2 separate regions of the Homo sapiens genome follow, and region 2 is linked to region 1. Evidence: fine-mapped expression QTL. Tissue or cell type: whole blood. Region 1 holds a variant in brackets; the other region holds the start of a gene. All regions are shown on one strand. Distances are between the middles of the regions.

Region 1 (2,755 bases):
TATGTTGGTCAGGCTGGTCTCGAACTCCTGACCTCAGGTGATCTGCCTGCCTCAACCTCCCAAAGTGCTGGGATTACAGGCATGACCACCATGCCCGGTCTAGATTCTTTAAATATAAGACAGTTCCTCCTGCTCCCTTCTCCCCACCCAGAGAAATCCAGAAAAGTTCCATTTTCTGGATTTGTCTTATTGCTTCCTCATCATTGTTTAAATATTGTTGGCATGAATGCTACATGAATGATATGTACTTATGGTGTCATATAATGTGTCCCATTGTTAGTGATACTAGGTTTGATCACCTGCAGATCTCTCCGTTGTAAAGGTATCCCTTTGCCCCTTTGTAATTTAATAATATGTGAGATTATTCTTCAAGTCAGGTTCTCCCAACAACTTCAGTTGCTTTAGCACTTTGTTGACTCTTGCCTGAATCAGTTGTTACACTGGGGGGTTTCAAAATGGTGATTCATAAATTCTGTTATTGCTGCTGCATTTATTAGCTGTCACTCTTCTGTAGAAAAGAGTCTCCAATTTTCATTTTTTAAAAAAGTATCACTGTGATTCATGAATTTTTTTTTTTTAATTCAATATGTTATTACATTGGTATTGTTATTTTGATGCTCAAATTTTCCCAAATATGGCCAGTGGAAATTTCAAGCTAGGTCCTGTGTCCTACTAATATTTCCTCTTTAGTCTTCACTTCCTTCCCCTCTGGTAGATGTTCAGGTTCAACTGGAGGTTCTTTTTTTTTTTTTTTTTTTTTTAAAGACTGCAAATTTTGGCTGGGCACAGTGGCTTGACTCTGTAATCCTAGATACTTAAGAGGCTAAAGCATGAGGATCACTTGAGGGCAGGAGTTCGAGAACCGCCTGGGCACATAGCAAGACCTGGTCTCTACAAAAAAGGTGTGGTGGTGCACACCTGTAGTCCTAGCCACTCAGGAGGCTGAAGCAGGAGGATCACTTGAATCCAGGAGTTTGAGGTTGCAGTGAGCTATGACCGCACCACTGCACTCCAGCCTGAGCAACAAGAGCAAGACCCTGTCTCAAAAAAAAAAAAAAAAAAAATCTAGCATTGAAAAGCAAAATTTTTTCAGGGTGGTTTAAATTACTTTCAATTCTCATTATCTACTTAAAGCCTGTAGGTTAGTTTTTTTGTTATAAGTCAATTTATCATTGAATAAAAAAGTTGTACAGACCTATTACATATGTTTTGTTTATAGGTGACCAAGTCAGCCATCGGGGTGCTCTAACTGGGGGTTATTA[T/C]GACACAAGGAAGTCTCGACTTGAATTGCAAAAAGATGTTAGAAAAGCAGAAGAAGAACTAGGTGAACTTGAAGCAAAGCTCAATGAAAACCTGCGCAGAAATATTGAAAATATCTTTTTGTTTTGTGCATAGTGATAGATATTGTGGGGGAAGAACTGTGTTTTGGTTGCCATATATAATCTTTTGTTTTTTCACATATTAAAAATTTCTTGTGTTTTAAGTTCAAGAGCTTATGTTTGTTTAGCTTTTGAAGACTAAAAGCTATTTTAATGATTCTTTGCTTAAGTGTTAAGTAGCTAATACCATGAAGTCACTTGGAAGAAAAGAACCCATAGAACACAAAAATAAAGGTTGTATCAGGCAAAGAAAGAGGAAACTGAGAAGGATCAGTTTGTGAATTGTACAAGTAAAACCTTGGTAGTTTTTTTTTTTTTCCCTTCTTCCCTGTTGAATTTATGTAAGCAAGAGATACTGTTTTAAGGAAGAGAGTGGGGGCGGCATCAGTAATGTTACATATTGCTTAGAAGTCAAATATATAAGGACTGGCATTTTATTGTACTTGTACAGTGGCACAGGCCTGTAGTCCCAGCTACTTGGGAGGCTGAGGCAGGAGGATCACTTGAGCCTGGGAGGTGGAGGTTGCGGTGAGCTGAGATCACACCACTGCACTCCAGCCTGGGTGACAAAGTGGGACCCTGTCTCAAAAAAAAAAAAAAAGGTGACAGGGGAGGGTGAAAAATGTTAGATTTTACTGTCTTGAAGTTATTTGGTGCAGATTTAATGTTAGTGGAGGAAATGGCTGTCAGATAACCAAGTCGGAGTAGCCATAGTTTTTTTTTTTACATAAAAATGGTGCTGCATGAGGAGTGGTTAGTTCAGTTCACAAATGAAACAATTGTATATGTGGATTTTCTTAAAACCACCATGGTGCTTTGGTATAAGAAGTACTTTATGTGTGCTTTCCATTTTGCCACACAAGTTGAAAAATATAGGTACTTGAGCATCAAGAATAGATATAAAGTTAATGATTTTTAACTGCTTCAGGTGAAACTGGAATTTTTTTAAAACTGCAGATTTATAACTTCTGTGCCATCAGTGCAAGCACAGAAAAAGAAAAATAAGCACCTGAGCTTTGACCTTGCAGGGGTCTGCATATCGCACTTTAAAGAACTGCCTGAATTTGGCAAGATGTTAACACAAAGAGCGTATGGGGAAATACTGAGGAAAAGGAGGATGTTGACAGTGTATACCAGCTGTCTTCCTGTGTTTGATAATCCAGCTAGATTGAATTATTCCACACATGGCAAGAACTCTTCATACATAAACCCTTAACATAGTGCCTTAAGCATAGTAACAGTAAACATTTGTTGAATGAAAAGATATTTAAAAGTATGTAATATTGTTAGATTTCACCTAACCTCCTTTATGGTTTTCCAAGAATTTGTTTTGTATAACTTTTAGTAAAACAGTATACATGTTATTCTGAGAGTGA
Region 2 (2,755 bases), 29 kb before region 1:
ACCCAGGAGTTTGAGGCTGCAGTGAACCATGACCGAGCCACTATGCTCCAGCTCCACCCTGGGTGACAGAGCAAGATCCTGTCAAAAAAAAAAAAAAAAGTTAGAAATAAAGAAAAGAAAATGCTTACATATTTATTTAATTTATTTTGAGACAGTCTCGCTCTGTTGCCCAGGCTGGAGTGCAGTGGCGCGATCTTGGCTCACTGCAACCTCTGCCTCCTGGATTCAAGCAATTCTCCTGCCCCAGCCTCCCGACTAACTGGGATTACAGGCACCCGCCACGACGCCCAGCTAATTTTTGTATTTCGAGTAGAGACGGGGGTTTCGCCATGCTGGCCAGGCTGGTCTTGAACTCGTGACCTCAGGTGATCCTCCCCCCTCAGCCTCCCAAAGTGCTGGGATTACACGCTTGAGCCACTCGACCAGGCCTATTTATTTTTTTAAACCAAGGGCTGGATAGGATTTGATCCGGGCTCCAGATAAAGGACTCCTAGGGAGATACCCTGGTTAGCAGAGGCAGTTAGGAGGCTACTAAAAATAGTTCAATCTAGAAATAATTAGGGCCAGAATTGTCTCCAGCAGCGGGCGGGGGTGGGGCTGGGGATGATTTGGGTAGTTATTTTGTTCTCTTCCCAGCAAGTAATTTCAGAGCAGCCCAGAGATTCATTTTCTAAACAAATGATGTTTTTCTCCCAAGACTGACAAGGATCAGACAGACCTAGGGTTGCCACTAGCACCTAGTATCTTTCAGGCTGTTTTCTTTTGTTTTTAAAGTGGATTAAAAGCTTTCAGCCTTACCTAAATCTTTGTTGCAATTGTACAGATCTGCCTAGATTTATAGCAGATGGTAGAACAGAAACAGTTCCCGACGGAATTAATCATCACATTATTAAAACAAATTTTCGAGCATTGACAAATCCCTTCGGGGTTGTCCTCCGAGTGGGCAATTCGTAACCAGCTTGGGGCGTGCTAAGATTGTAAACGTTCCTATGGAGAGCGATAACAAAGGGGCAGCAGTGACTCCGCACACAGAATTCCAAGAATCACCAGCATTCCATGTGTTCCAAGGCTAGCACAGTGCGCGCGAGGTCCGCTTTTTTAAACAGCGCGGAATCACGTGGCCGACAGCCCGCGGCGCTACTGGCCCTCGGAGTCTCCCTCTTGGCTTTGGCGCGGAACCTTTCCCCCTTTGTGGACGCGACCATTGGCCCCGCGCTCGGAGGTGGTACGGACCAACCCTACGGTCATAGATTTTCCGAGTGAAGCTTTTGACTAAGTCTCAGGAAAGCGTTAGCTACAGAATTCTAGATTCAAAAGAAATCCACCAAAAAACGCTGTGGAGGACTGGTTTTGCCTAAAAGAAAGAGCAGACCTGAACTTGACTCCTCCTACGCCCTGTGAAGGCTGCAAGGTGGTTCCGTCCGAGGCGCGGACTCCGCCCCCACGAGCGCCGCCATTTTGTTTGGCTGAGGGGAGCGAGCGGCGCTTTGGGGGAGGGGTCGCGTAGGCGCCTCACCTGACCCTGCGGCCGTGCGGTTGCTGCTCCGGGGCAGGTCTCCTTCCAGGCCAGGGGCCCGGAATCATGTACATAAAGCAGGTAAGGCCTTCGCGTCCCTCCACCCCGTCATGGGCCGGTAAGGGCCGCTCCTTGAGGCGGGAGTGTTGCGGCGCCACCCGCAGCCTCTCCCCTGTCTCCACAGGCTGGACCAGGGCTGGGCGGGGACTGTGGGGGAGGAGGGAGACCCGGGTCCCGCTAGTGCCCCGGCTGCGGGGTCGCGGAGAATTGGGGCACTCCTTTGCAGCCCCGGCCTCCCTGCTGGCGCTTGTCTGGGAGAGGCAGGATCTCCGAGAGGTGTGGAAGGGCCGGCGGGCGGGCCGCTGGGAGGGACTGGGCCTTCCTGGGTGGCCCCAGAGCTGGCGGGGGGCACCCCGCCGGGGCGGCCGCGGGCGGGAAGGGCTGTGTGGTCCTGCAGGGGTGGCCTCACACGGCCCATGTGCCTGGGATGTGTGGAAAGGTGGCTTCCCCGGCCCGGGGGCGGCCCTGGGGGCATTGGCTGGGGTGTCGTCACCTGTCACTGCGGGGAGCCGTTCTTCTCCCCAGTTAACCCGCGAAGTGAGCGGGACCCTCCTGCTTGCAGGATACGGAGCGCCGCCTCCCTCGGTTGTTTACTTCTGTCAAAATGGTCTTCCCGCGCGGGACTCCACCACAAAGATGAGCCCAGGCACACGGCCTTGGAGACGGTTTTCTGTTGGGTCTGTCGGGCTCTGAGCACTCCTTCTTTGGAACGTGGGTTCTTTCAGGCTGGCCGGCGTGAGTGACTGAAAGCAGCACTCGGTGGTCTTGGAGTCAGGAGAGCTGGGGCCCGTCGGCCTGCTTTTATAGACTTGCTATTGTACTGCAGCGTTTAGGGTTCAGTTAAGCTCACACAGTGTTTTTGATTTTGAAAGGTCCTTAACAGGTTGACAGCATAACTCCTAAAAAAAAATAAAACCCAGCAGCATTGCCTTGGCAAAGATTACCGATAAAAGTACCTTTTTTTTTTTTTAGCAGATTTTTAATCACCACTTTCCAAAATGAATTTTTCTTATATGAAATTTCGAGTTTTCTATATTGCATTAAATGAAAAACAAGAAAGAAATGCAAGAGAAAAATGTTAATTTTTTTTGTGGGGTGGGTTCTCAAAAATGTTTTTTATTTACTAGGTGATTATCCAGGGTTTTCGAAGTTACAGAGATCAAACAATTGTAGATCCCT

Evidence for each region. PIP is the estimated chance that this variant, and not a neighbour inherited with it, causes the effect.
Region 2: SMC3 starts here. The variant in region 1 is fine-mapped to the expression of SMC3 in whole blood (INTERVAL, PIP above 0.99).

The regions. Positions count from the first base shown.
Region 1 is chr10:110,595,179-110,597,933 of GRCh38, forward strand. SMC3 (structural maintenance of chromosomes 3) reads left to right here. Exons shown (of 29, transcript NM_005445.4): 19 at 1,220-1,372. Among named protein-coding and RNA genes, the nearest start is that of SMC3, 29 kb to the left of the region's middle. The variant T/C (reference allele first, on the strand shown) is at 1,263.
Region 2 is chr10:110,566,235-110,568,989 of GRCh38, forward strand. SMC3 (structural maintenance of chromosomes 3) reads left to right here and starts at 1,461. Exons shown (of 29, transcript NM_005445.4): 1 at 1,461-1,597; 2 at 2,704-2,755. The coding sequence starts at 1,583. LOC105378483 (a long non-coding RNA gene) reads right to left here and starts at 1,074. Exons shown (of 2, transcript XR_946318.2): 1 at 799-1,074. RefSeq lists enhancers at 1-466, 1,281-1,330, 1,341-1,440 and a silencer at 1,781-2,070.